Homo sapiens: one gene and its partners. The gene in region 5 interacts genetically with the main gene of each other region. Each region holds a gene or a part of one and is shown on either strand. Other genes may lie near its edges.

Evidence for each region.
Region 1: changes in SLC33A1 (region 5) and TRAPPC9 together harm fitness less than expected from each alone (positive genetic interaction), as found in Homo sapiens cells (one large-scale study listed by BioGRID).
Region 2: changes in SLC33A1 (region 5) and DEPDC5 together harm fitness more than expected from each alone (negative genetic interaction), as found in Homo sapiens cells (one large-scale study listed by BioGRID).
Region 3: changes in SLC33A1 (region 5) and CHRAC1 together harm fitness less than expected from each alone (positive genetic interaction), as found in Homo sapiens cells (one large-scale study listed by BioGRID).
Region 4: changes in SLC33A1 (region 5) and ARL5B together harm fitness less than expected from each alone (positive genetic interaction), as found in Homo sapiens cells (one large-scale study listed by BioGRID).

The regions. Positions count from the first base shown.
Region 1 is NC_000008.11:140,432,609-140,438,874, reverse strand, and holds part of TRAPPC9 (trafficking protein particle complex subunit 9), read left to right. Parts: intron 1-3,634; coding exon 3,635-3,763; intron 3,764-6,266. UniProt on the Homo sapiens protein: Functions as an activator of NF-kappa-B through increased phosphorylation of the IKK complex. May function in neuronal cells differentiation. May play a role in vesicular transport from endoplasmic reticulum to Golgi.
Region 2 is NC_000022.11:31,814,078-31,820,343, forward strand, and holds part of DEPDC5 (GATOR1 complex protein DEPDC5), read left to right. Parts: intron 1-914; coding exon 915-1,135; intron 1,136-1,338; coding exon of another isoform or gene 1,339-1,352; exon of another isoform or gene 1,353-1,914; intron 1,915-4,944; coding exon 4,945-5,148; intron 5,149-6,266. UniProt on the Homo sapiens protein: As a component of the GATOR1 complex functions as an inhibitor of the amino acid-sensing branch of the mTORC1 pathway.
Region 3 is NC_000008.11:140,512,828-140,518,926, forward strand, and holds the end of CHRAC1 (chromatin accessibility complex protein 1), read left to right. Parts: intron 1-1,541; coding exon 1,542-1,668; intron 1,669-2,298; coding exon 2,299-2,420; 3' UTR 2,421-4,327; downstream 4,328-6,099. UniProt on the Homo sapiens protein: Forms a complex with DNA polymerase epsilon subunit POLE3 and binds naked DNA, which is then incorporated into chromatin, aided by the nucleosome remodeling activity of ISWI/SNF2H and ACF1.
Region 4 is NC_000010.11:18,668,259-18,674,524, forward strand, and holds part of ARL5B (ADP-ribosylation factor-like protein 5B), read left to right. Parts: intron 1-271; coding exon 272-419; intron 420-4,363; coding exon 4,364-4,447; intron 4,448-5,725; coding exon 5,726-5,877; intron 5,878-6,266.
Region 5 is NC_000003.12:155,819,209-155,824,878, reverse strand, and holds the end of SLC33A1 (acetyl-coenzyme A transporter 1), read left to right. Parts: 3' UTR 1-3,855; downstream 3,856-5,670. UniProt on the Homo sapiens protein: Acetyl-CoA transporter that mediates active acetyl-CoA import through the endoplasmic reticulum (ER) membrane into the ER lumen where specific ER-based acetyl-CoA:lysine acetyltransferases are responsible for the acetylation of ER-based protein substrates, such as BACE1.

The DNA of each region.
Region 1 (6,266 bases), on a different chromosome or scaffold from region 5:
ACTAAAAATACAAAAATTAGCTGGGCGTGGTGGCACGCGCCTATAGTCCCAGCTACTCGGGAGGCGGAGGCAGCAGAATTTCTTGAACCAGGAGGCAGAAGTTGCAGTGAGCAGAGGTTGCACAACTGCACTCCAGCCTGGCAACAGAGCGAGACTCCATCTCAAAAAAAAATAAAATAAAATAAAAAAAGAAATGAGAGGAAACGGCAGAAGAAATTCCCCAAAAAGAAGGGATGAGGGAGGAAAAGCAGCCAGCCTGTGCTGGTTGCCACGAGCAGTGGCCTGGGATGCTTCCCTGCTGTATCTGCTGCCCTCCTCCCACCCTGCCATGCGTCCTCTGAAGGAGGCCCTGCCCACACTTTCCCTTTTCCTCTGTTCTTAGTATACCTTGCCCTCTGCTTTGGATGCCGTTCCCCATGATCTTCACCTCTTAGACTCCTCCCTCAAAACCTCCTCCATGTGTCACATGATGAATGGATAAACGAAATGTGGTATGGGCATACAGCGGAATATTATTCAGCCATGAAAAGGAGTGAAATTGTGATACCACTGCAGCACGGATGAACCTTGACAACTTTGTGCTAAGTGAGAGAAGGCAGGCATGAAAAAGGCCGCAGATTGTATGATTCTATATATATGAAGTGGCTAGAATAGGCAAATCTATAGAAGCAGAAAGTAGACAACTGGTTCTAGGGGCTGGGAGGAGGGGGAATGGGAAGTGACAGTTAACGGGCATAAGGTTTCTTTCTGGGGTGATGAAAATGTTCCAGAGTCAGTTAGTGGTGATGGTTGCACAGTTGTGAATATACTAAAAACTGCTGACTTGCACACTTTAAGTGGGTGAATTATATGGTATGTGAACTCTATGTCAATCTTAAAAATTAAAAGAAAGGGAAGAAGAAATCCTACTTCAAAGCACAGCCATCTCTGATCCCCCGCAGCAGTCGGCAGAGCGGGTGCCCTGCCTGAGATGTTGCTGACACTTCGTGGTGGAATCGGATGTCTGTGTGTGGTCTTCCCTTTGGGGACTGCGCCTCCTGGAGGTGGTCCTGGGAGGATGGACTGGCTGAGTCCATTGTGTGGGTAAGGACTAAAACAGGGTTCTTTCGTTGAGGTTGACAGTTTAGCAAGGACACCTGTCAGCCACTTATGATAATACAAGTCGGAATGAAGTAATGAGGTGAGTTCTGTAACAGAAGTTTAACGAGGTGCCGTAGAACATATTAAATATAACAAATTCTTTCGTTCTTGGGGACGGAGTCTCGCTCTGTTGCCCAGGCTGGAGTGCAGTGGCATGATCTTGGCTCACTGCAATCTCCGCCTCCTGGGTTCAAGCGATTCTCCTGCCTCAGCCTTCCGAGTAGCTGGGACTTACAGGCATGCACTACCACACCCGGCTAAATTTTCTATTTTTAGTAGAGACGGGGTTTTGCGATGTTGGCCGAGCTGCTCTTGAACTCGACCTCAGCTGATATGCCTGCCTTGGCCTCCCAGAGTGCTGGGATTACAGGCATAAGCCACTGTGCCCAGCCAAATATAAGAAATACTTCAAACGGCCAGGCATGGTGGCTCATGCCTGTAATCCCAACACTTCTACAAAAAATAAAAAATAAAAAAATCTTACTTCACCTCACTTCTACAAAACAAAATTAAAAAACATTAACTGGGTGGAGACCAGCCTGAGCAACATAGGGAGACCTCACTTCTACCAAAATAAAATAAAATAAAATAAAATAAAAAGACATTAGCTGGGCTTGGTGGTCTGTGCCTGTAGTCCCAGCTACTTGTGAGGGTGAGGCAGGAGGATCGCTTGGGCTCAGGAGGTCAAGGCTGCAGTGAGCCACGATCGCACCACTGCACTCCATCCTGAGCAAGAGTGAGACTTTGTCTCTTAAGAAAAAACCAAAATAAAACTTAAAATGGACTTAAATTTAGTTTTTTAAAGAGGCTAGGGAAATAGAAGTGGGGAAAGAAAGGGAGTAAGAATTAGGGATGGAAAAGAAAAGAGAATCAGATAAAGGATTATGCAGGCTGAGAAAGACATAGTTTTACTTGGTTTTCTTGAAAGAGCATTGTCTCCCTAAGTACTCCTTATTGTATCAATTAGAGAATCTGTGCATCTCCCAGTGGGCTCTGAGACTAGGGCATGTGCAGCAGGTGCTTCTCCAGAAAGACTGGTACTGCCCATATGCCTTCCCCATGCGGCGCTGGACTGGATGAGGAGGGCTCCTAAAGGGCACACAGAGAAGGACGGTGCTGTGTGCCGTGGGCCTCTTCCATGCTCAGCCTCTCAGAAGTGGACAGTGGAGTTGTCCACAAGCTACTTAGGCCTGACATCACAGCAGACTGAATGTAGAAGCTGATAGAAGATCCAGCTGACTTGTATTAACTCTGATATTAAAGAAATGTGTGAACATGTCAAATAATGCCATTCCTCCAGTACTTTATTTTTGTTTTGGAAAACAATTATTTTTCATAAAACTGTTAACACATGACAAGCTTATTATTTTATTTTTTATTTTTATTTTTTTGAGTCAGTCTCACTCTGTCGCCCAGGCTGGAGTGCAATGGCGTGATTTCAGCTCACTGAAACTTCCATTTCCCAGGTTCAAGCGATTCTCTTGCCTCAGCCTCCCGAGTAGCTGGGGCTACAGGTGTGTTTTATCATGCCTGGCCAATTTTTGTATTTTTAGTAGAGTCAGGGTTTCACCATGTTGGCCAGGCTGGTCTTGAACTCCTGACCTCAAGTGATCCACCCACCTTGGCTTCCCAAAGTGCTGGGATTACTGGCATGAGCCACTGCGTCTGGCCTATTTTAAGAGGAATTAATACATAAATACTTAAATCCTTTTCTCAGTTTTATTTTCCAATATGGTAAATATCTACAGGTGTAACCCACATCACAAAAAAAGCTCTTTGTGATCCTAAGTCATTTTTAAGAGCATCAAGGAGTTTTTAGACCAAAAGTTTAAGGAGCACTGAGTTAATGGATAAAGATGATAGAGATGAATACTGTGGCACACCTTCTAAGGCATGTGGCATAGCTGGAGATTATTAGGTTGTTACGTCATGAGAGAAGAACGGACTGTGTAGCGAGTTAATATGGCTGTTTTTGAGGAAGAGGGAGGACTACAACCTCAAAAGGAGCAGATGCCTATGGGGTGCATGGTCTGGAAAGGCATTCTGGTCTTGCTTTGGTGCTATTACTGTGAAATATTTTCAATCCAGGGCACTTTCTGTTATACATCTCTGTAGCTCCAGAACCTGGCGCAGTCTGCCACACAGTTTGTGCAGGAATGCCGGCCACGTGAATGGATGAACGCAGAGGCTGGCCTGTTTTACGTGTGCAGTCAGCCCTGCAGGGAAACCTTGAGTGTGGTGAGAGTGTTCTGCATTGCCTGCCTGGACATGGGCATGGGAAAGACAGGTGGCAAGTTCCCATTTGCAAAAAACTAGTGATCTTTAGGTTTGATCTTTGTTTTGGGAGAAAAATTGGCATTTCCAAATAATCCACCTGTTTAAATCATTGTTAGTTACTGCAGTTTGAGCTAATGAAGGGTCACTGACTTGACTAATGATGCTGGTTTTTGTTTTTTGTTTTCTGGTTTTTGTTTTTTGTTTTCTTAATGCCCAGCTGCCCTGGAAGGATTGTGTTCAGCTTCTGTCATCTATCACTATCCTGGTGGAACTGGTGGGAAGAGTGGAGCTCGGAGGTTCCAGGGCAGCACCCTTCCTGCTGAAGCAGCCAATAGACACCGGCCAGGTGAGCTCTGCCCTTTTTCCGGCCTCTGCTCACTTGCAGTCTTTAAATAAAGCAGACTCATTTGTTACTTTTTCCTTTGAGTTAGGACTAATATTTAAATAAACTGTAAAATCTGTTGAGTCAGTAATTTTTTTTTTTTTTTGAGACAGAGTCTTGCACTGTTGCCCGGGCTGGAGTGCAGTGGCGCAATCTCGGCTCACCACAGCCTCCACCTCCCAGGTTCAAGCAATTCTCCTCCCTCAGCCTCCTGACTAGTTGGGATTACAGGCGCCCGCCACCACACATGGCTAATTTTTTGTATTTTTAATAGAGGCGGGGTTTCACTATGTTGGCCAGGCTGGTCTCGAATGCTTGACCTCGTGATCCACCCGCCTCGGCCTCCCAAAGTGCTGGGATTACAGGCGTGAGCCACCATGCCCTGCCCAGAAATCTTGTATGAGACATTTTGTTCTGATTTTATTGAATACTTTCAATCTTACTGAATACCACTAATGGGTTAGAATGATTGGTTGATTTCTGGAATACTTGTGTAAAATTTCCTGGTAGAACAGACTTGAGGTTCTGTGTCTAAGTCTTTTTTATAATTTTATGTATTAGGAGAAGCTAGTCCCAGAGGTCAATTTTAATAAGCTGATTCAGGGCCTGGGAGCAGTTTCTTATTTTATTGGCTGATGACATTCTCTCAATGAGTTGTTTGATTTGCTTATGCTTGGTAGAACCAATGAAGAGTGAGAAAACTTCTTGGGTAGAGCAGACCCACGAATGCTGAATGAACATGAACGTTTTGGTCCTTGATGAATGAACCTGCCTTTAATGGCTCAGGATTTAGTCATCATGTTGCATAGGTCACAAAGAAGGAAGCAACAAAATAATGAAAGCAGGGATTTATTGAAAACGAAAGTACACTCCACAGTGTGGGAGTGGGCCGAGCAGCGGGCTCAAGGGCACGGATACAGAATCTTCTTGGGTCTAAATACCCACTAGAAGTTTCCCATTGGCCACTTCATGCTCACCTCTTGTAAATGAAGTGGTAGCCTGCAGTTAGTCTGATTGGTTGCGGAAAGCAGCCACTCAGAGGCTAAGGTGAAGTTACAAAGTTATGCTTCTATGCAAATGAAAAGTAGACAAAGTTATACTTCTCTGCAAACTAAGACTCCACCAGCAATCAGTCTGAGTGGTTCCGGACAGCCAGTTTCCCACCTGCCATGCAGAAAAGGTCAAAGGGAGCAGCCTCTGGTCCTTTTGTTACTTAGTCATGGAAAGTTAGGGTTTTCCTTTCAATGTAGTTGTAGGAAGTCTGTGTGAAACAACCTTAAGTTCTTTGCCTCTAGATCCTATTCTTCTGCCTCAGGCTTATCTTTTTTGTGATTGAGAAAATTTTGATTTTTTTCCTGTATCTGTAATAGATGAGAAAAGTAAAAACGTTGATTTGACATCAGTTACTTTTCCTTTATAGATTGACTACAAGGGGACATTGTTGAATAGATTATGTGTGTTTTTGTTGTTGTTGTTGTTGTTTTTTGAGACAGAGTCTCGCTCTGTCACCTGGGCTGGAGTGCAGTGGCTCAATCTCGGCTCACTGCAACTTCTACTTCTTGGGTTTTAGTGGTTCTCCTGCCTCAGCCTCCCGAGTAGCTGGGATTACAGGTGCCCGTCACCACACCTGGCTAATTTTTGTAAATTTCAGTAGAGATGCGGTTTCACCATGTTGGCCAGGCTGGTCTTGAACTCCAGACCATAAGTGATCTGCCTGCCTCGGCCTCCCAAAGTGTTGGGATTACAGGTGTGAGCCACCGCTCCTGGCCTGTGTGTTGTTTTTTGAGACAGAGTCTTGCTCTGTTGCCCAGGCTGAAGTGCAGCAGCATGATCTCGGCTCACTATAACCTCTGCCTCCCGGGCTCAAGTGATTCTTGTGTCTCAGCCTCCTGAGTAACAGGATTACAAGTGTGTGCTACCATGCCCAGCTAATTTTTGTAGAGACGAGGTTTCGCCATGTTGGCCAGGCTAGTCTCCAACTCCTGACTCAAGTGATCCACCCGCTTCGGCCTCCCAAAGTGCTGGGATTACAGGTGTGAGCACTGTGCTTGGCCGATTATGCTGTTTTAATATATAAATAAATGTGTTTGTATTTCAACAAAATTGTATGATTAATAGTTGGCAGTCCTTTGGGAAGTATTTTTTTGTAAGACACTTAGGCTATTTACTGACTGAAATATAGAGACATGACTTTTTTTTTTTTTGATACAGAGTCTTGCTCTGTTGCCCAGGCTGGAGTGCAGTGGCGCGATCTCGGCTCACTGCAACCTCCGCCTCCCGGGTTCACGTCATTCTCCTGCCTCAGCCTCCCGAGTAGCTGGGACTACAGGCGTCCGCCACCACGCCTGGCTAATTTTTTGTATTTTTAGTAGAGACAGGATTTCACCGTGTTAGCCAGGATGGTATCGATCTCCTGACTTCATGATCTGCCCGCCTCGGCCTCCCAAAGTGCTGGGATTACAGGCGT
Region 2 (6,266 bases), on a different chromosome or scaffold from region 5:
TGAGCTGAGATCATGCCACTGCACTCCAGTCTGGGTGACAGAGTGAGACTCCGTCTCACAAAAACAAACAAACAAAACAAACCCCAGGCAGCCTCTATTTTTTTTCAATAATACATACTTCAGCGTAAGTTTCTTTCTTTTTTTACATGTTATTTATTTATTTAGTGTCACCCAGCCTGGCACAAAGCTGATTAGTATATGTTTCAACAAATAAGAACTAAAAGAAAACCCATCACGGTACCATTATCATTGGTAACAAAATTAACACTAATCCCTAAATGCCCTCTAATAGCCAGTGCATAGTCAGTTTTTTGAATTGCCTCAAAAATGTGCTTTTGCAGTTAGTTTGAAATGGGACCTAAACAAGATCCACTTTTTGCATTTGGTTATAATGCCTTTTGTGTGTGTGTGTGACAGTAGAATGTCTTGCTTTCTACATTTGGCTGATTGTTGCCTTGTAGTGTTTCAGTTTTCCTCTATTCTGCAGATTCCCTGTAAACTGGCAATTATCTCTGGAAGCTTGATTAGATTTAGATTCAAATTTGAGGGCAAGTAGACTTCTTGGGCACTATGTTCTTTCTCCCACATCACATCATACCTCTCTTCTCATTCTGTTTTTAGTGATGAGAGATTAATCAGTGGGATTAGGTGGGGTCAGCCTGGAGCAGTCCTTTCTTTACAACTATGATCCTAGGACTTTGGCTGCATAATGTCTGTCATTTCCCCCCTCTCTTATATAACATCTCAAGCTGTTAAGGGTGAAGTACCGCATACAGGTTTCCCACTTGTAGATCACACTGGGGATTTTTGTTATTGGGTTCCATGTGGCTTGGGCTGGTGATGGGTTTTAGTTTTAACTCAAGGTAGGACAGCATCCCTCGCTTGATGGTAACTTTTTGTCTCTTGCCTGGCAGATCTGTGCGAGAGCGAGAGAGTCACAGTCGAAAGAGTGCCAGCTCCTGTGATGTTTCATCCAGCCCTTCCCTACCAAGCCGCACACTGCCCACTGAGGAAGTGAGGAGCCAGGCTTCTGACGACAGCTCCCTAGGCAAGAGTGCCAACATCCTGATGATCCCACACCCCCACCTGCACCAGTATGAAGTCAGCAGCTCCTTGGGATACACCAGCACTCGAGGTAAGAGTGCTGAAGCACAGACAGAGCCAGGGACATCTTTCTTAATATAGTGGGTGACTGGAGGTGGGAGGATTGGTCAGAGGTGGGGTGTAAATCCCACATCTTAATGATTTCTTTGCCAGTGCAGTAGGTACAAATCACTTTAGCTGTTAGCTATGTATATATTATACTTCTTTTTTTTTTTTTTTTTTTTTTGGTGACAGAGCACCTAGGATAAAGTGCAGTGATGCAATCACAGCTCACCTCAGTGCGGCCTTGAACTCCTGGACTCAATCGATCCTCCCACCTCTGCCTCCCAAGTAACTGGGACTATAGCATGCCACCACACCCAGCTGATTATCATATTTTTTTTTGTAGAGGTGGGGAAGTGCAGTGATGCAATCACAGCTCACCTCAGTGCGGCCTTGAACTCCTGGACTCAATTGATCCTCCCACTTCTGCCTCCCAAGTAACTGGGACTATAGCATGCCACCACACCCAGCTGATTATCATATTTTTTTTTGTAGAGGTGGGGTTTTACCATTCCCAGGCTGGTCTTGAACTCCTGGACTCGAGGGATCCACCCATTGGCCTCCAAAAGTGCTGAGATTACAGGCATGAACCAATGTTACCGCACCCTGCCTCTATTATACTATTTTTTGTTTAGCCTTTCTTCATCCATCATTTAACTGTATGCCTTTCCATATGTTAATGGAAAGCTTTTCTTAGGCCTAGGGTCAAAAGGGTTTATTTCCTTATGATTTCCATTTGTGCCATATATAAAACAACCTCTGTCTTAATGTTGCATTTTAGTTTCTCATTTACCGGTCGGGCGCAGTGGCTCACACCTGTAATTCCAGCACTTTGGGAGGCCAAGGCGGGTGGATCACTTGAGGCCAGAAGTTTGAGACCAGCCTGGTCAACATGGTGAAACGCCGTCTCTACTCAAAATACAAAAATTAGCTAGGTGTGGTGGCGGGTGCCTGTAATCCCAGCTACTCAGGAGGCTGAGGCAGGAGAATCACTTGAACCTGGCAGGCGTAGTTGCAGTGAGCCGAGATTCCACCACTGCACTCCAGCCTGGGTGACAGAGGGAGACTCCACCTCAAAAAAAAAAAAACAAAAAACTTTTTTTTTCACTTACCTGTTTTTTTTTAACTTTTATTTGCATTGATTTTGTACCGAATTTATTCCCATACTATCAGTTTTTGTTTCTTCAGTTTCTTTCTTTTCTTTTTTTTTCTTTTCTTTTTTTCTGAGACAGAGTCTTGCTCTGTTGCCCGGGCTAGGGTACAGTGGCATGATCTCAGCTCACTGCAACCTCTGCCTCCTGGGTTCAAGTGATTCTCTTGCCTTAGCCTCCCAAGTAGCTGGGATTACAGGCACACACCACCACACCAGCTAATTTTTGTTTTTTTAGTAGAGATGGGGTTTTGCCGTGTTGGCCAGGCTGGTCTCAAACTCCTGGCCTCCAATGATCCACCCACCTCGGCCTCCCAAAGTGCTGGGATTACAGGCGTGAGCCACCATGCCTGGCCTTGGGATATCTTTTTCTTCTGTGCAATGTCCTCTTCTGGTTTAGGAATAATTTATTCCTTTTCCATGAGGATCATCTTGGTTTCGCAGGGGGAGCTCATGTATGGGTTAATCTGACCATGAGCTCTTTACATCAGGCAGCACATCTTGGGTGCTTTGTTCACCTGGACATGCTCAATGACCAGAGGATCTGCACCTGAACCCTTAAGTTCGGCATGACTGTGCATTTTTAAGCATATGTAGCAATAATTCAGTACTCTTTTTTGGCCACTGACCCCGTGTGCAGCCGTGCTGTGTGGCCTGGGACCACCTACTATCTCCATCATTGTAATGTGGAAATGGTACACATTGTTTCTGTAAAGTGACATATTTCTTTCTTTCTTTCTTTCTTTTTTTTTTGTGATGGAGTTTCACTCTTGTCCCCCAGGCTGGAGTGCAATGGCGTGATCTTGGCTCACTGCAACCTCTGCCTCCCGGGTTCAAGCAATTCTCTTGCCTCAGCCTCCCGAGTAGCTGTGATCACAGGTGCCTGCCACCATGCCTGGCTAATTTTTGTATTTTTAGTAGAGATGGGGTTTCACCATGTTGGTCAGGCTGGTCTCGAACTCCTGACCTCAGGTGATCTGCCCACCTCAGCCTCCCAAAGTGCTGGGATTACGGGCGTGAGCCACCTTGCCTGGCCAAAGTGACATCTTTCATATACTTGGTGGCTTTTTATATATGCATACCCTTGATGGCCTGAGCAGTTTCATGGGTGGTTTCTTTTATTTGTTTGTTTTGAGACAGGTTCTCACTCTGTTGCCCAGGCTGTAGTGCAGTGGTACAATATTGGCTCACTACAGCCTCAACCTCCTGGGCTCACGTGATCCTCCCACTTCAGCCTCCCAAATAGCTGGGACTACAGGTGTGCACCACCACACCCGGCTAGTTTTTAAAGTTTTTGTAGGGACGGTCTCAATCTGTTGCCCAGGCTGGTCTCGAACTCCTGGGCTCAAGTGATCCTTCCACCTTGGTCTCCCAAAGTGCTGGGATTACAGGAATAAGCTACTGTACCTGGCCTGTACTCATCTTTTTTTTTTTACTAGGTTTTTCTCTTTTATTTCCTTAATAACTAACTAGACTATGTTCTTTTTTATTTTGTAAGTTAGAGCATCAATTCATTAATTTACAATGAACAGTAAAACTTTCACAGAAATCTGAACATTCTCTTCTTTCCTGCAAAGCAACTTGAGGAATGAAATACAGTATTACAGTGTATGAGGTTCTGTGCTAGGCATTGGGTAGATAATGATGGCCAAGACAAATTCCTTGGAGTTTGCATCTGCTGGACCCACTTTTTCATCTGGGTGGTTGCTTAATGAACATGGAATACACACAAGAAGAGTTGGTTGTGGATTTCAGTTCTTTGATCCACTCAGGCATGCTGTCTCTGTCTCCATAATGGGACCTGTCTACCATTGCGCCAGACAGGTGGTGTCTAAATATCATACCATCTCCTTGCCTGGTCAAGGCTGGAGGCATCCATTTCTTCGTTATTTTTTTCTCAGTAATTTTTTTAGCATAATAACATTTTATTGCTTACTCATGTCCCAGCCCACTAAGTCAGTGGAGGGGCTACTGATCCACTCAGTCCATTCAGGAACTCAGGTTCCTTCCATCCTGGGATGCCATGATTATCAACATTGGTCTCCTGGGTTGCCACAAAGGGAAAAAGAATGCAGATCATTTGTGGAGATCATTGTGGTCCAGGCCTGGATTTGAAGCATATAATTTCTACCTGGCCAGAACTAAGTCATTTGGCTTTATTGCAAAGGGTCTGGGAACTATAGTCTTGTGTCCAGTAGGAAAATCAAATGGGTTTATAGTGAAGACATTGACTAGCTCTGCCAAGATCTGCCCTTCTGGTGACCACATAGCTATTTTTATTGTTCCTCCCTCTTAGAGAATATACTCGTTCCTTTCCCAAGGGAGACAACTCAAGTCCCATCATTCAGTCATTGCTTCCAGCTCAAAGTTCAGGATCTTCAGGCAGTGTCCTTCCCATCAGATTTGGTTGTGACTTCATTTTGCCAGTAATTTAGAACCAAAACTCCCTTCTCCCAAGTATTTAAAAGCAAACAAATGCAAACATATTTCATTTCTTTATAGTTTGACAGTTTTGCTCATTTCTCTCACTCCCTGACATTTATAATGCCCAAGATTCTTGTCAGCCTTGGTTTATCATTCTACCTAGCTCTGGTTTCACTGTGGTTCTGTGGTTTTTCTTTGTGACTCAACTCCATGATAACTGGCAGATGTCCTGGAGAACATGATGGAGCCACCACAGCGAGACTCCAGTGCACCAGGGAGGTTTCACGTTGGCAGTGCAGAATCCATGCTGCATGTTCGACCTGGTGGATACACGCCCCAGAGAGCACTGATTAACCCCTTCGCTCCCTCTCGGATGCCCATGAAGCTTACGTCCAACAGAAGGCGCTGGATGCACACTTTTCCTGTGGGTAAGTTGGTTGCTTAAGAGAGAGCCTTGGACTAGGAGCTCCTAGCCCTGGTCCTCAGTGTCGGTCACCCATGTGTCCTTGGTCAGGTGCCTCTGTTGCTCCACCTGTAAGATGGGATAACCATGCCCACTTTGGCCATCCCAGGGGTTCTTGTAAAGATCCTTGAAGATGCACTTGGGAATAGGCTTTGTAACTAATTAGCTGTATAAACCTGAGGGCTTTTTTGTTTGTTTCTGCCCTTTTTTTTTTTTTTTTCTTTTGAGACAGGGTCTCACTCTAGTTGCCTAGGCTGGAGTGCAGTGGTGCAGTCTCAGCTCACTGCAGCCTCAACCTTCAGGGCTCAGGTGATTCTCCCACCTCAGCCTCCCAAGTAGCTGGGACTGTAGGTACGTGCCACCAGGCCTGGCTAGTTTTTTGTATTTTTAGTAGAGACAGGGTTTCACCATGTTGCCTAGGCTGGTCTTGAACTCCTGGACACAAGCAATCTGCCCACCTTAACCTCCCAGAGTGCTGGGATTATAGATGTGAGCCACCGCATCCGGCCCTTTGTTTCTATTTGAGAGGAACTATGCATTGCCACCTGCTTTCTTTCCTAAGTCAGATGTCCCTCATTCTTGTTCATTCCTTCTTCTCTTAGATCTCTTGGATATTGATATCCTGTCTTGGTTACAAGGAGTTATGTTGTTTTGTTTTCTGTTAGGTCTCTCTGACAACTGAAAAAAAATTTTCCCCTGAATTCACTTTTTCCTAGTCCATTCTTTTTTATCTATATTCTGTTCTCAAGAAGATGACAGTAAGATTGTCTCAAGCTGTGGCTAAAATTAAACTTTAGCTTAATGGGCTCTTATTGAGCTGGAAAGGAACAAATGCATTAAACTCCAGGATTTTGTGTGTGTGTGTGTGTGAGACAGTGTCTCACTCTGTTACGTAGGCTGGAGTACAGTGGCGTGATCTCAGATAACTGCAACCTCTGCCTTTTGGGTTCAAACAATTCTTCTGCCTCAGCCTCCCAAGTAGCTGGGATTACAGGCATACATCACCACACCTGGCTAATTTTTGTATTTCTAGTAGAGACGGGGTTTCACCATGTTGGTCAGGCTGGTCTCAAACTCCTGATC
Region 3 (6,099 bases), on a different chromosome or scaffold from region 5:
CCCGTTATTTTATTTTTTGAGATGGAGTTTCCCAGGCTGGAGTGCGGTGGCACTGTCTTGCTCACTGCAACCTCTGCCTCGCGGGTTCAGATGATTCTCCTGCCTCAGCCTCCTGAGTAGCTGGGATTACAGGTGCCTGCCATCACACTCGGCTAATTTTTGTATTTTTTGGTAGAGACAGGGTTTCACCATGTTGCCCAAGTTGGTCTTGAACTCCTGACCTCAGGTGATCCGTCTGCCTCAGCCTCCCAAAGTGCTGGGATTACAGGCGTGAACCATCACGCCCGTCTTTCTCATCCCTTATTAACTGAACTAGATGCATTAAAGTCAAAACCTTGAGAAAGAGGCTCAGTTCAGCCTCTGTAAAAATGAAGACTTGGCCCTGCTATAAGAACTGGGATGCAGGAGGGAGAAGATCAGTTCCGGTTGTTTCATTAGGTCTGAGGGTTGTATGTCAGTTCCTAGAATAGAAAAGTTTTGGCAAAATGTAAGCTGTGGTCACTATAGTTGTAGGTGAACCACCTTAGAAACAGTGTATGCAAATAGAAGACTAAAAAGGTATTCCTGAGCCAAATAGAATTTTTGAATGGCTTTTTGCTACTTTCTATTTTTTTTTCTTTTTTTTTGAGACGGAGTCTCGCTCTGTCGCCCAGGCTGGAGTGCAGTGGCGCGATCTCGGCTCACTGCAAGCTCCGCCTCCCGGGCTTACGCCATTCTCCTGCCTCAGCCTCCCGAGTAGCTGGGACTACAGCCGCCACCATGCCCGGCTAATTTTGTTTTTTTTTTTTATTTTATTTTTAGTAGAGACGGGGTTTCACCGTGTTAGCCAGGATGGTCTCGATCTCCTGACCATCCTTGGTCCGCCGTCCTTGGCCTCCCAAAGTGCTGGGATTACAGGCCTGAGCCACAGCTCCCGGCCGCTTCTTTCTTTTACTCTAGAGGTTGGTCATTAAACAGTTACGATTCATCTTTTTCGTAAGTTAGACATCTAAAATAAGCCTCTGGAAAATGCCTGCTTCTCCGCCAATTTTGATACTGGCTTTGCTTTCTTTCTGACCTCATGTTTTTCTTTTCCCCAGTGATTTCTTTTTTTTTTTTTTTTTTTTTTTTTGAGACGGAGTCTTGCTTGATCACCCAGGCCAGAGTGCTGCAATCTCCAACCTCCACCTCCCAGGTTCAGGCGATTCGCCTGCCTCAGCCTCCCGCTGGCTGGGATTACAGGCACCCGCCACCATGCCCAGCTAATTTTTGTATTTTTAATAGAGATGGGGTTTCACTATGTTGGCCAGTCTGGTCTCAAACTCCTGACCTCAAGTGAGCCGCCTGCCTCAGCCTCCCAAAGTGTTAGTATTACCAGCGTGAGCCACCACGCCTGGCCTCCCCAGTGATTTCTTGTAATTTAATTTGAGAAACCAAGAGAATCTGAAGTCTTAATATACTTTTAAGCCTAATTAAGGAATCAACAATGTAATTTTAAAAATTAATTTCTGTGGTACATTTTCAAAGCACACCTTTCATTTGCATTTTTCATTTTGTTCTAGGAGCTCTTTGTTCAATGCCTAGCCACCTATTCCTACAGACACGGCAGTGGAAAGGAAAAGAAAGTACTGACTTACAGTGATTTAGCAAACACTGCACAGCAATCAGAAACTTTTCAGTTTCTTGCAGGTACTTAGTCTTTGAAACATTCTGGTTAAAAAATGATTAGTAATCAATAGCTCTTTCCCCACCCCTTGCCTCCCTTCTGCTCTCACGGAAAATTAGACTTTTTGCTACTTTTTCCAAGCCGCAAAGTACTATGAGTTGTCACAGGAAGATACTTTTAGTCTTCTCTGTTTGAATGTGTTTGTCATGTGGTCCACCTAGAACAATAGTGAAGCCAACAACATTCACAAGATGTTGGTTGGCCGCGTATGCTGGGCAGTCCTTTACTCTCTACAGGGACCCTGCCTGCCACTGAAGGGAAAACTCAGGGTGGGTCTACATGGCCGTAGTTAGAGCTTAAGTCTACCCTGGGGCTAGCCTAGGCTATCTCAGGTAGTCGGGCAGGGTTGCTCATAAAAGCAGCTCATAGAGACACCATGGTTTGTACTCATTGGACTGGAAAGAGGCCTATAGCGTTCGTTAGGAGACAATGCTAGTTTCTTTGATATTTTACCCAGAAATGCAGCCTGAATTTCATCTTGTTTTGGAACCTCTTATAGAGGTCAAAGCAGGAACTAGTACATTTTGAAATGTGCATTGCTGTGTTCATAGTCTACCATAACCAATTGCTGATGTACGCTTTATGTTTTTAAGATATATTACCAAAGAAGATTTTAGCTAGTAAATACCTGAAAATGCTTAAAGAGGAAAAGAGGGAAGAAGATGAGGAGAATGACAATGATAATGAAAGTGACCATGATGAAGCTGACTCCTAAACCAAAAGTGCTTTAAAAACCAGCCTGGCGAGGACAGCCCTGGACCCACTCCACTGTCTCTAAGTAAACACAGCACTGCCCGCTTTTAGCGTCTTCACTTCTTCACAGAGTTCCAGTGTGTGGTATTCTTTCGAGGTATTCTTTCCAGGCCGAGATTGAGCACCTCATGTACCTACGCCACAGACAGCCAGAGGGAAAGCGACCCAGACAGCAGCCCCTCCTCGACAGGCCCACCCTGCAGCTCAGGCACCAAGAAAACAGCCGATACTGGCAGCCATTGCAGCTCCAAACTGCAGAGGCAAGGCCAATTTTAACTTTTCAATTTACAGTCGATTTTGAAGAGCTTCTACATATCGGTTATGTAAATTCATATATGTATATTTTGGAATCAGTTCTTATAAACAGCTCGATTCAGTTTTAGCTAAATTTATAGTTTAGGTAGTATGTTACATTTGAATTTTTGTCTTAAGAAAAGTTGACTGTTCAGATATTTTTCTACTGTAAAGAAATATACTTTTCTATTAAAGATCTGTACATATTTTTACAGTAAAATGCTTTATGGAACTAGTTTTAGAGCCCTCTATGGCTTTAAGGCCTTGCTTACTGCCTGCAAATTTTGAGAAATTTAAAAATAAGCATTCTAACACTTTTATTCCCACAGAAAAATTCCAAGTCAAATTATCAAATCAAATACAAAAATAAGTCTTACCTCTTGTATAAGCATGTTGTACTAAAAAAAAATTTTGAAACATTTTGTATATTGGAGATCTCTCTCATCTTACTGTTCTTTGCTTTAAATTCCTGGCACTTCTTTTTACTGTCTATAAGAGAAAACCTATCATAAGCCCAATTTTTTTTTTCCACTTAGGGTAAATGTTTGGCTCCTCTCATTTCATTATCTTTTTTTTTTTTTTTTTAAAGACAGATTCTCACTCAGTTGCCCAGGCTGGATTGCGGTGGCGCTGTCTCAGCTCACTGCAACCTCCGCCTCCCAGGTTCAAGTGATTCTCCTGCCTCATCCTCCTGAGTAGCTGGGATTACAGGCGTGTGCCACCATGCCCAACCTATTTTTGTATTTTTTAGTAGAGACGGGGTTCACCATGTTGGCCAGGCTTGTCTCAAACTCCTAACCTCAACTGATCCACCTGCCTCAGCCTCCCAAAGTGCCGCCGGGATTACAGGCGTGAGCCACCATGCCTGGCCTTCATTATCTCTTTTTTAAAAATGAAAAAGTTTATAATTTACATTCAGTAAAATCACCCTTTTTAGTGTCTAGTCTGTGAATTTTGACAAATGCATGGTTTTGTAACCAATCGATAGGACAGTTCTGCCACCCAGGACATTCCCCTCTGTTCCTCTGTTCCTCTCTTCTCCTGCCCCCTAGCAACCACTGGTGTTTTCTGTCCCTCTTGTTCATTGACATTTATTTTAAAATAAAATATTTTAAAATCTACTTTTTGGTGTACAGTTCTGAGTTTTGGCAAATGCAGTCAAGTCACTACCACCACCACAATTAACAGCTATATCACCCTCCAGTAAATTCCCTGTGGTCAGCTCCTTCCCCACCTTTTACCGTGGCAACCGTCAAGCTATTCTCTGTCCCTATACCAGGTGTCATCAAATTTTTTTCTGGAAAGGGCCATGCAGTAAATAGTTCAAGCTTTGTGGGCTTTTATAGTCTCTGTTGCTGCTGCTGAACTCAGCTGTTGTAGCACGAAAGCAGCCAGGTAATTACTAGATGAAGGAATGCAGGTGGCTGTGTTTCAATAGAGCTTTATTTCTGCAAACTGAAACTTGAGTTTTGTGTAATTTTCATGTGTCATGAAATACTGTTTTCTCCAACCATTTAATAATGTAAATACTTGCTAGCTTATGTGCCATTAAAAAATGACTTGATTTGGCTTACAGACCAGTTTGGTGGCCTGTCTTTTCCAGAATGTCATATAAATGGAATCATTCAGTATGTAGCATTTGAGTCTGCAGTTGTTCTGTTTAGCAGAATGCATTTGAGATTCATCCGTGTTGTCACAGGTATCAGCAGTCCATTCCTTTATATTGCTGAGTAGGATTCCATTGTATGGATGTATCTGTTTATCCATTTTCCAGGTATATGGATAATTACCCATTTAGATTGTTTCTAGTTTTGATGATTGTAATTTTTTTTTTTTTTTTTTTTGACAGGGTCTCACTCTGTCACCCAGGCTGGAGTGCAGTGGCATGATCATGGCTTACTGCAACTTCCGCCTCCTGGGTTCAAGCGATTCTTGGGTCTCAGCCTCCTGAGTAGCTGGGATTACGGGCACGGCGTCACCACACTTGGCTCATTTTTTTGTACTTTTAGTAGAGATGGGGTTTCACCATGTTGGCCAGGCTGGTCTCGAACTCCCGACATCAAATGATCCGCCCACCTCGGCCTCCCAGTGATGGGATTATAGGCATAAGCCACCACACCTGGCCTTGATGACTATAATTAATAAAGCCCTATAAGTATTTGTGTACAGGGTTTTTGTTTGTGTTTTTTGAGATGGAGTCTCGCAAACTCTGCTGCCCAGGGCGGTGTGCAGTGGCGCAGTCTTGGCTCACTGCAACTTCTCCTATCTAGGTTCAAGCCATCCTCCTGCCTCAGCCTCCTGAGTAGCTAGGATTACAGGCGCCCACCACCACACCTGGCAAATTTTTGTATTTTTAGTGGAGATGGATTTTTGCCATGTTGGCCAGGCTGGTTTCGAACTCCTGAGCTCAACCAAGTGACCCGCCCACCTCAGCCTCCCAAAGCGCTGGGATTACAGGTGTGAGCCACTGTGCATGGCCTGTGTACAGGTTTTGTGTGAACACGGGATTTCATTTTACTTGGGTATATGCTTATGAGTGGAATGCGATACAGACGTTTATAAGAAGAAACTGCCAAACTGTTTTCCAAAGTGGCTGTGCCATTTTGCAGTCCCACCAGTAGTGAGTTCCAGTGGCTCTGCAGCTCCTACAAAAATTCATGTCAGTTTTTGTTGAGTTTTGAGAGATTTATATATTCTTAATACAAGTTATTTGCCTGATAGGAGATTTGCAAACATTTTCTCCCAGTCACTTTTCATTCTCTTAATAGCATCTTTTTTTTTTTTTTTCGAGACTGAGTCTTGCTCTGTCACCCAGGCTGGAGTGCAATGGCACGATCTCGGCTCACTGCAACCTCCACCTCCCAGGTTCAAGTGATTCTCCTGCCTCAGCCTCTCGAGTAGCTGGGATTACAGGTGTGTGCCACCATGCCCGGCTAATTTTTGTATTCTTAGTAGAGATGGGGTTTTACCTTGCTGGCCAGGCTCGTCTTGAACTCCTGACCTCAAGTGATCCACCCACCTCGGCCTCTGAAAGTGCTGGGATTACAGGCATGAATCACTGCACCCAGCCTGAAGCATTCTTAAGGCACCATAAGTGTTTGAGATCCGATCATTCAGGGAACACTCACCCTTTCAGTTCCTCCTTGAACCGGGTGCCAGGTTGTTACAGTAGCTTCCTAAGTGGTTTCCTCACAGTGCCTACAGCCTTTCCTCTTTCCACCTTGCATACTGCTGTCAGATTATCAAAATGATTTTATGAAGATGAATCTTTTGCTCTCGCTTGCAAGTGTTAAACCATTACTGCTTCTGGCCATTCAGTAAATGATGGTGAAATAGCGAGAATATAA
Region 4 (6,266 bases), on a different chromosome or scaffold from region 5:
AAATGCAAATTCACACCACACTGTTTCCTTTCTTTTCCATCAAGCTTGCAATTCCTTCCGTTAAAAAAAAAAACAAACAAGAAACAAGTCTTTCTTCTGGAGTTGTTATCTAGATATTGATTTGCGCAAGTGTTCTCCAGGTTTATAATTTTCATGCTAATGATCACCATCATTGGTGCAGAAGGTTGATTGATCTTAAAAATACAGAGATAAAAGTTGCTTCAGATTCTCAAGATTTACAAGAGCTTTTACGGTGTCTGTTTTTCAACAGCTTAATGAATGAAGTGGTTCATACTTCTCCAACCATAGGAAGCAATGTTGAAGAAATAGTTGTGAAGAACACTCATTTTCTTATGTGGGATATTGGTGGTCAGGAGTCTCTGCGATCATCCTGGAACACATATTACTCAAATACAGAGGTATGCTAAGATGAATTTTGAATTTTAATCCAAAGGTCCCTAGAGTAAACATAGAAAGTAATTAGGCTGCACCTGGGCGTATTGACAGTTGCCTTTTTTTTTTTTTTTTTTAAGACGGAGTCTTGCTCTGTCGCCAGGCTAGAGTGCAGTGGAGTGATCTTGGCTCGCTGCAAGCTCCGCCTGCTGAGTTCAAGCCATTCTCCTGCCTCAGCCTCCCAAATAGCAGGAATTACAGGCGAGTGCCACCACACCCGGCTAATTTTTGTATGTTTAGTAGAGACCGGGGTTTCACCATATTGATCAGGTTGGTCTTGAATTCGGGACCTCGTGATCCACCCTCCTTGGCCTCCCAAAGTGCTGGGATTACAGGCTTGAGCCACCGTGGCCGGCCTTTTAATAAGATCCTTTTTTGTAGGGAATTTGGGTTTCCTTTTTTTAAAAAATAAATAAATAAAAATTTCATAAATGAGACTTAAGAATTTGGGTTTTCGAATAAAAGAAAAGGCAAATAGAAAGATTGTTTGGAGCTATTATTACTTGAGTGCTTACTGTTTGGCCAGGTTCTCTCCATTCATCTTCACAAGATTTTCATGTCTCCAGGGTTGGAGAGATCTGACACGTGGAGATATTATGTAGGTTTCCCCAAGATCTCACAACTTTCTAAGAGACCCTGACCGGTGGAGGAATAAAATATTTTATTAATTTAAAAATTTTTTATACCATGAACATTCAAAATGTTGGTAGATTTTTTTTTAATTAGAAAAAAGTAGATTTGCAAATCATCTCTCAAAGTTCTCTGCCACTTATGAGTTCAGAGCTAACTTGGGGAACAAACCTGGATATATTCATGTTCTATTTCTGCTTTTATTTCTTATTAGAGGCAGATTTTTTTAAAAGCCATTCAATGTAGTTTAGAGAGATTTATCCTTGATAGTATGATTTCACAATTGCATCCATTTAATTGTTCTTTGCAAAGAAGTACACCTAACCAATTATTTTTTTCTAAAATGAAACCTTTTAAAAATTGGAGTTGGGCCAGACACGGTGGCTCACGCCTGTAATCCCAGCACTTTGGGAGGCCGAGGCGGGTGGATCATGAGGTCAGGAGATTGAGGCCATCCTGGCTAACACAGGTGAAACCCCGTCTCTACTAAAAATACAAAAAACTAGCCGGGCGTGGTGGGGCAGACTTGTAGTCCCCAGCTACTCAGGAGGCTGAGGCAGGAGAATCGCTTGAACCCAGGAGGCAGAGTTTGCAGTGAGCCGAGGTGGCACCACTGCACTCCAGCCTGGGTGACAAAACGAGACTCTTATCTCAAAAAAAAAAAAAAAAAAAATTGGAGTTGGAAGGGAAGAGGTAGAAAAGGATATAATATGAATAATTTTTGGTGAACAAAGTTGCCTCTTTAAAAAACATGTATTGTTCTAGATTTATATTATAATAGCATGTGTGTATGTGTGTATATATTCCAATGCAACGTGTAAGTAAACAAAGATGGCGTATCATAGATAATCAGAACTTGTGGTAGCACTGAATTATTTTATTGGGTATGCAGAAGCTGTAAGCAAATAATATAGTTAAAGGGTAGCTTATACATTTATACAGTAAAATAATGTTCTGAAACTAGAATAAGTTAGAAAGTAAGGGAAGGGCCAGGCGCAGTGGCTCACTTCTGTAATCCCAGCACTTTGGTAGGCCGAGGTGGGCAGATTGCTTGAGGCCAGGAGTTCAAGACCAGCATGGCCAACATGGCAAAACCCCATCTCTACTAAAAATACAAAAATTAGCCAGGCATGGTGGCATGTGCCTGTAGTCCCAGCTACTCCAGAGGCTGAGGCATGAGAATCGCTTGAACCTGGGAGGCGGAGGTGGCAGTGAGCTGAGATAGCACCACTGCACTCCAGCCTGGGTGGCAGAGTCTCGCTCTCTCTCAAAAAAAAAGAAAAGAAAGTAAGGGACAAATGACATTGTAGCATATGATTAATTTAAACATCAGAGCTGTTAGTAGTTTTAAGCTCACAGTTAACTCCAGCTGTGAAAAGGGCAGTTATCATTGATGAATAGGTCAAAGTTGATTCTAGTGAATCCATATGTACTTAAAGTGTGTCGAAAGGGTAGTTCTTGAAGTGACTGAAACTCTGGAGGACTTAGCATGGGTCCAGAAAGAGATATCCATTACTGATGCCATTTGCATGAAACGTTCTTTTAATAAGTGATCTCTACAAGAATATCAAAATTACTACAAAGAACAGTGGCGCCTGTCACTTTGCATTTTGAAAATTCTTCACGTGGAAGAGTCCCCCAAAAGCGGTAGTATGTCCATTATAATACAAGAAGTTACAGGTATTAAGTAATTATTGACACCTTCCTCTCATTAACTCACAGTTGTTTCCCATATTCTGTTGATTCCTCCTTTGCCACGCGACATTCTTTCCGTTTATTCCCTTCTAAGCCCAACTCAGTTTATATTCAGATTAGTTGTCTGTTTCCCTAATTTTATTTATTTTTGTTTTTTATTTATTTATTTTTTTGAGATGGAGTCTCAGTCTGTCACCCAGGCTGGAGAGCAGTGCAGCCTCCGCCTCCCAGGTTCAAAGGATTCTCCTCCCTCAGCCTCCGAAGTAGCAGGGACTACAGTACACACCACCACACCTGGCTGATTTTTGTGTTTTTAATAGAGACAGGGTTTCACCATGTTGGCCAGGTTGGTCTTGAACTGTCCTCAAGTGATATGCCCACCTCGGCCTACCAAAGTGCTGGGATTACAGGTGTGAGCCACTGCACCTAGCCTGTTTCCCTAATTTTAAAGTCATCTCTGTAATCTAATTCTACCCTTCATGTCTCAGTTTATTTTGCATCTATCTCCTGCTGTAATAACATCATTTCATCTCATTTCTTAACTTTTTATTCTGTATACAGTGTTCAGCTTAAGGGTGCTTTTTCGCTGTATCATCTCCTCCATCTCCTCCTCCTCCTCCCCCTCACCCACCCCCCACATTTTTTAAAAAATGAGTTAGGGCCTCTCTCTCACCCAGGCTGGAGTGTAGTTGCATGATTCTCAGTACAGCCTCAACTTCCTAGGCTCAAAGCAGTCCTCCCACCTTAGCCTCCCAAGTAGGTGGGACTATGTGCATGGCTAATTTTTATTTTTTGTAGAGAGACAGGTTCTCACTATGTTGCCCAAGCTAGTCTCAAACTCCTGGGCTCAAGCAGTCATCCCACCTCACCTCCCAGAGTGCTGGGATTATATGTGTGTGAGCCACAATGCCTGGCCTATATCTTCTTATTTTTTAATATGCAAACTCCCTTTTTTCATGTATAGCTTTACCAACAGATTTCTCCTCTTTTTTCTGGTGTCTTGCCTTTATTTAATTTCACCTGAATCTCCAGTATATAATGCCTAAGTATATATGTTTCAATCTGGAGCATTTATGGTGGATACTGTTTTATAAAATTGTCTTATTTTTAAAATGCATTTATCTTTTTCTTTCAAACTAGCTTTTCTTTCTAAGAGTTAGGAGATTGTGGTATACACAAGTAAGCAATTATTGACTGTTTAGATGAATGATAATGGAGTACTTTGAAGTTTTAGTGAAAAATATTATTGAAATTAGTGTAAGTTTCTTTTCAAAAATTGCTTTTTACTACCAGCATTTGAAAACAAATCATAGTATTATGTATTCGGGCATCACTTAAAATAAAACAAGTGGGGCACAGTTTTTATTTGTTGAAGCTATGAGTTATTTTCTTACTGTTAACATTTGGATTTTACTGCTTGATGTGGTTCAGTATTATAAAAGCTGTTTATGGTGAAAAAGCAGTAGATGTTTTATAGTAATGATGATGCCATGTAGAGAAAGTACTTAGATTACTTGAGTAGTTTTACAGAAAACTTTTCAGCATCCCATTCAATTTTCTGTCTTTCCTTTTAATTTTCTTCTAGTTCATCATTCTTGTTGTTGATAGCATTGACAGGGAACGACTAGCTATTACAAAAGAAGAATTATACAGAATGTTGGCTCATGAGGTAAATTTTTAAAGTAAATCTTTAAAAAACAGTGTAGTAAAGTATCTGTACGTTGCCTTTGCTTTTTTGCAAAGATTAATGTGATATGATGTTGGCTATTTTATGATTAACACAACTTTATGTACTAAACTGATGAAAGTCTTGAGGTAAAAAAAAATGTTCATTACTTTTTCAAACTTAAAAAACCCTAACACATTAATTTGTAGATTACTACTGTTATTGTAAAAATTTTTCAAAGCTAAAGTTACTTAAGCATGCCTTTAAAAGTCTGATAAATTGAGATAAGCAAAAGGAAAACTTAAGGGTCTTTTCCCCAAAAGTTTCAATAACTGAAAGGTTTTTTTTTTGTTTTTTGTTTTTGTTTTTGTTTTTTTTGAGACGGAGTCTTGCTCTGTTGCCCAGGCTGGAGTACCGTGGCGCGATCTTGGCTCACTGCAACCTCCGCCTCCTGGGTTCAAGCAGTTCTCTGCCTCAGCCTCCCGAGTAGCTGGGATTACAGGAACCCGCCACCACGCCTGGTTAATTTTTGTATTTTTAGTAGAGACAGGATTTCACCATCTTCGCCAGCCTGGCCTTGAATTCCTGATGTCGTTATCCGCCTGCCTCAGCCTCCCAAAGTGCTGGGATTACAGGTGTGAGCCACTGTGCCTGGCCTGTATTCCATGTTTTTCAAACTTATACTATATAATATATATCTTTCTGAATCTTGCTCTTTTTGTACAACATTGTGACTTATCCATGATAATATATTCTGATTATCCATCTTAATATGTACTGCTTTCGTTCATTCCTTTTAACAACTGTATAGTTTTCCACAGTATGAGTATATCACAATCTATTCTTCTAATGTTTTCATAGTATAAACAATGCTGAAATGAATATTAACCAATGACCTTATGTTATACAAAGACTAGTAAGTAATAAGTATTGCCCAGCTCCCACCACCAGTACTCTTAAGTTTTGGATAAACTCTAGTATTTGGCAACATACTACCATATTTGCCTATTAGAATATTAATTATGTATTTTTGAGTCAGTATTTAAAATTCAGGTGTATTTTTTTTTTTCAGTTTGACCAGTTCGACTCAAAAATAAAAAATAATTATTTAATATTAATCTGTTGGAATGAATAATGAAATTACGGGTATTTGAGATTATTTTTATGTTAAATACTAGTGCCCGATTATGTTAAAGTAGAAGCACTTCATTATAACTGTTCAGCTGGGTAAATTTAAATTGTGGTATTTCACATATTAGAAATATTTTGTCTTGATTGCAGGATTTACGGAAGGCTGCAGTCCTTATCTTTGCAAATAAACAGGATATGAAAGGGTGTATGACAGCAGCTGAAATCTCGAAATACCTCACCCTTAGTTCAATTAAGGATCATCCATGGCACATTCAATCCTGCTGTGCTCTCACAGGAGAAGGGTAAGTTCATCCGTCTGAGGGGAGGTATGACTTCTTTCAAATTTCTTCCAACTTTTTAGGCCAACTTGTTTTCTTCATGGGTCCTGTTCCTTTTCTGTTTGTTTGTTCTTAATTAAAGGTGACTTTTATAATGTGTCTCAGGCTTACAACCTAGAAATAATTCTAGTAAAATCACTGGCAACTTAAAAACTTTTAATGTAAATATAATGTTTTACCAAAAAGCAATAAACTATTGAATTGAGTTTTCATAATCCAAATTTTTTTCTTTGTTGCCTTTATCATATACTGAGAAAAAAACTGTAATGTCACCTTTCTTTTAAAAAGGAAGCTTGAAAGAAATTTCACATTTTCTGCAAGGACTTAAACCTGAGCTCTCAGCTTTCTGCAAG
Region 5 (5,670 bases):
TTAAAAATATTAAACCTTTGAAATCGAAAGTAATTTTTGGATTTCACCCCTTTATTGCAAGGTTTTTGATGTCTGTGGGAAAAACCCCTGAATTGCTTGTGAAACTCTGGATATGTAATTTTTTTTCTTTTTCTGAACAGAGTAAAATCTTGGATGGGCCATGATCCAAAAATCATGGTTTTGAAAGTAGACCGTACTATAAGCCATAATCACAAATCTGAGGTAATAGTTGTGAAAGTGTTTAAAACATCCTGAAAACAATGTTGAAAAAAAAAATCTATGATAAAAACTATAAAATCTCTGCATATGTTATACTGTATTGAACTTGAAACTTTGAAGGAATTAGAGTAGATAAGACATTAATGGTAGAAGAGAAACCACAGGGGTGAATTATATCCTACAAAAGAGAAATCTTCATGATTTAACCTTTTTTTTCTGAGTGACTTTTATTTTGCCTTATTAACAGAAACCTGAGAAAGTATGTTGCTTTGTATTAAATGGTTGAGACCATTATTTGATATAAAAGCTGAAAATTTAATTTTTGTATTTTGGAGAATTCTGTGGTTCCAAGTAATTGAAAGAATGACTAAAGCTGTATGTCATAGACCCTGCTAAAATGAAATAACTTGTTGGGAACATTCCATGCAGATTTCCAAAATGTATTTTACCTTATTATTAGAGAAAGAAAATAAACTTTTAAAATAATCTGATAACTAGCATTCATATATTTAATAAGTATTTTGGTTACAGAAGGGAAGGTGATACTGTACATTGTAACTGCTGAGACTTTTTTTTAACCAATGTCTTTGGTAGATAGCGAGGCACAATTATTTTCTCTTAGGGAGGATTTTGAATACCTATTGCAGGCTGGGCATGGTGGCTCACGCCTGTAATCCCAACCCTTTGGGAGGCCGAGGTGGGTGGATCACTTGAGGTCAGGAGTTTGAGACCAGCCTGGCCAACATGGTGAAACGCCGTCTCTACTAAAAATACAAAAATTAGCCAGGCATAGGGTGGCACACGACTGTAATCCCAGCTACTAGGGAGGCTGAGGCAGGAGAATTGCTTGAGCCCGGGAGGCGGAGCTTGCAGTGAGTTGAGATTGCGCCACTACACTTCAGCCTGGGCGACAGAGCGAGACTCCGTTTCAAAAACAAACAAACAAAAACAAAACAAAAACACCTACTGCAGACCATGTTCTTTTTACTTTATTTTATTTTATTATTTTTTTGAGATGGAGTCTGGCTCTGTTGCCCAAGCTGCTCACTGCAACCTCCGCCTCCCGGGTTCAAGCGATTCTCCTGCCTCAGCCTTCCAAGTAGCTGGGACTACAGATGTGCACTACTACGCCCAGCTTATTTTTGTATTTTTGGTCGAGATGGGGTTTTGCCATGTTGGCCAGGCTGATCTCAAACTCCTGACCTTAGGTGATCTTCCCGCCTTGGCCTCCTAAAGTGCTGGGATTACAGGCGTGAGCCACCGCTGCTGGCTCTTTTTACTTTAGATTGTATCTGCCTGATTTGACAATGCCAAATTTTTTATGTAATCACCATTTGGTTTGGGACTGAGAGCTCTTTCATTTTCTACCAGTCAAACCACTATTAGAGTCTTCATGTTACTTCCCCAATTTGCTAGCAAGGTAGAATCAGCATGGATAGCTTATTTTCCTTATTGGAATTCTGTTTTGGAAGAGGCAGGTCTTATAGCAGGGCAGACTAATTAATGTGCTGAACTCATTCCCTCCTGCTTAAGTGAATAAAAACTTTTATTTGACTATGGATTATAAAGATTGCCTTTAAGGAGCCTTGTTTATTTTGGGGAAGGAGAATGGATATTTTGTAGGAGAAAAAGACTTTATATAGTAAATGAAAAGTCTATGGGCTGGGTGTAGTGGCTCATACCTTTAATCCCAACACTTTGGGATGCCAAGGTAGGAGTATTGCTTGAGCTCAGGAGATCGAGACCAGGGAGACTGCATCTCTATTTTTAATTAAAAAGGAAAGAAAAAGAAAGAAAGTTCTATGACTAATCACCTTTACTCTAAAAAAATTTTGCCCAAATGTGTAATGAAAGAGATCATATTTAAATATCAGCAATATTAATTTGCATAGCTCATAAGAAGTCTTGACTCATTTAGAAAAAGGTTGCTACAGTTTAATAGTTTTTTATTGTCAATATAGACAATATAACTTTATAACAATTTTATGTGAAGAATAATGATTAAATGGCATGACTGAAATGCACAAGGTACAGGTACAATCCTTAGGGAGTTATCTTAAATTTCTTTTTTTTTTTTTTTTTGAGATGGAGTCTTGCTCTGTCGCCCAGGCTGGAGTGCAGTGGCATGACTCCCTGCACCCTCTGCCTGCTGGGTTCAAGTGATTCTCCTTCCTCAGCCTCTCCATTAGCTGGGATTACAGGTGCCTTCCACCACACCTGGCTAATTTTTTTGTATAGTATAGACGGGGTTTCACCATGTTGGTCAGGCTGGTCTCAAACTCCTGACCTCGTGATCTGCCTGCCTCGGCCTCCCAAAGTGCTGGGATTGCAGGTGTGAGCCACTGCACCTGGCGGGAATTATCTTAAATTTCTAAAATTGAATACCCCAGTCAGCTACAATTAATCAATCACTAATGTAAATATTAAAGCCTATTCTTATTTTCCTTGAAATGATCTTAAATGTTGGAAAAGTTTAATTTTGTAGTCAGAGTTAGTGAAATTGAAATTTTTTTATCACCTGCCCCTATAAAATTAGAGAAATATAAGATTGGAAAAAAATTTGATATTTAAGAAAGTGGCATATTTGAACCAGGTGTGTTGGCTTACACCTGTAGTCCCATTAGTTTGGGAGGCTTAGGCAGGAGAATCACTTGAGGTCAGGAGTTTGAGACCAGCCTGGCCAACATGGTGAAACCCTGTCTCTACTGCAAATACAGAAATTAGCCGGGCATGGTGGTGGGCACCTGTAATCCCAGCTACTTGGGAGGCTGAGGCAGGAGAATCGGTTGAACCTGAGAGAGGGATGTTGCAGTGAGCCGAGATTGTGCTACTATTCTCCAGCCTGGGCAATAGAGTGAGACTCAGTCTCAATTAAAAAAAAAAAAAAAAAATGCGGCCGGGTCCAGTGGCTCACGTCTGTAATCCCAGCACTTTGGGAGGCCAAGGCAGGCAGATCACTTGAGGTCAGGAGTTGAAGACCGGCCTGACCCACATGGAGAAACCCCATCTCTACTAAAAATACAAAATTAGCCGGGTGTGGTGGCCCAGGTCTGTAATCCCATCTACTCGGGAGGCTGAGGCAGGAGAATCGCTTGAACCCGGGAGGCAGGGGTTGCGGTGAGCCGAGATCGCACCATCGCACTCCAGCCTGGGTGCAAGAGCGAAACTCTGTCTCAAAAAAAAAAAGGAAGTGGCATATTTGGTAAATTGATAAATTACCACTGTCAAATTATATTGGTGAGTCTATATCTATTGTTGTCCCCAGATGTTGCCTTTGCAAGAATTAGTGTAAAATTGGAAAAAATACTCAATGTTGAAAGCTGTCATTGTTGAGATCTTTATGAAATTATTGTGCCCATGTCCAAGTTTGAATTAGAGATACACAGCACACAATCATTTCTGTTACCACTTTTGGAATATCTAGCATTAGCCTTGATAGTTTTGTGTGGTGTGTTTTGAGTATATCTGAACTGTTAGTTATATTTGGTTAATTTATTAAAAGATGTGTGTTAAACCTTAATATTTATGCAGTGTTTAAGTATTTGGAATATATTTGAAATAAATTATCCAGTGTTTTAGATAAATGGTTATTTAATTGCTTAAAGTGATTCTCTAAAAAATAAAACATTAATGAAATATCTTGTTTTCATTTTTATTAAGTAGTAGCTAAATTTACTTTCAAATTAGTCTTGTTAAAATTACAGTAGATTGGCACAATTAGAACCAACTGCAGTAATTTCAAGTAACTTACACTTACTAACAAATCTTTTGTTTTCTTTATTTATGAAGCCATCCTCAATTATTTTTTTAGTTAATTTTTTTTCTTTTTTTTTTTCTTTTTTTTTTGAGACAGTCACTCTGTCACTCAGGCTGGAGTGCAATGGCACGATCTCGGCTCACTGCAACCTCCGGCTCCCGTGTTCAAGTGATTCTCCTGCCCCAGCCTCCGGAGTAGCTGGGATTGCAGGTGCGCGCCACCACGCCCAGCTAATTTTTTGTACTTTTAGTAGAGATGGGGTTTCATCATGTTGGCCAGGCTGGTCTCCAACTCCTGACTTCAGGTGATCCACCTGCCTCAGCCTCCCAAAGTTCAGGGGATTACAGGCATGAGCCACCACCCAGACTATTAATAAAAGATAAAGGGCCAGGCGAGGTGGCTCATGCCTGTAATCCCAGCACTTTGGGAGGCCAAGGTGGGTGGATCACGAGGTCAGGAGTTTGAGACCAACCTGACCAACATGGTGAAACCTCTTCTCAAAAAAAAAAAAAAAAAAATGTCTGGACAAAGAGGAGAGCAGGTAGAAGCATGGCGCTGTTTCTTTATTTGGAATTATTAAGAATTTCGGCCAGGTGCAGTGGCTCACACCTGTAATCCCAGTACTGTGGGAGGTCAACGCGGGTGGATCACCTGAGGTCAGGAGTTTGAGATGAGCCTAGTCAACATGGTGAAACCCTGTCTCTACTAAAAATATAAAAATTAGCTAGGAGTTTTGGCAGGCACCTGTAATCCCTGCTACTTGGGAGGCTGAGGCAGGAGAATCGTTTGAATCTGGGAGGTGGAGGTTGCAGTGAGCTGAGATTACGCCGCTGCACTCCAGCCTGGGCATCAAAAGTGAAACTCCATCTCAAAAAAAAAAAAAAAAGGAATTTTACTGGGAACTTTTATTACAAAATCTGTTAGTTTTAAAGCAGTTGTGTTTGGGTATGGGCTTCTTTGCTGTTAACAATTTTGAAGAATTTCTTTTTTTTTTTTTTTTTTTGAGACACAGTCTCACTCTGTTGCCCAAGCTGGAGTGCAATGGCTTGATCTCGGCTCACTGTAACCTCTGCCTCCCAAGTTCAAGCAATTCTCCTTCCTCAGCCTCCCAAGTAGCTGGGATTATAGGTGCCGGCCACCACACCCAGCTAATTTTGTATTTTTAGTAGAGACAGAGTTTCACCATGTTGGCCAGGCTGGGCTTGAACTCCTGACTTCAAATGATCCTCCTGTCTTGGCCTCCCAAAGTGCTAGGATTACAGGCATGAGCCACTGCACCCAGCCTGAAGCCTCTCTTCTTCATTTGGAAACAGCCACTTTCTCGCTGTGTCCTCACATAACCCTTCCACTGTGTGCATTCATCTTTGATATTTCCTCCAGTCCTGTGGGCTTAGGGGCCTACCCTTATGAGCTCACTTAGCCTTGATTATCCCCTGAAAGATCCTAATTCCAAATACAGTAATTGGGTGTTTAGGGCTTTAACATATAAATTTTGAGGAGCACAGTTCATTCCATTACACAGAGATATTTATTTCTCCAGTACGCTCATTTCAAGGGGCGATGAGACCTGGGACCGTGAAGACATCTCTGGTTGCTGTAATTATGGAGACACTAGTCTTCTCTTTAGAGATATACACTTATATTCCAAAGGGTAAGATCCTTCCCAAAGAGAATTTAAGTAATAATTAAGTCTG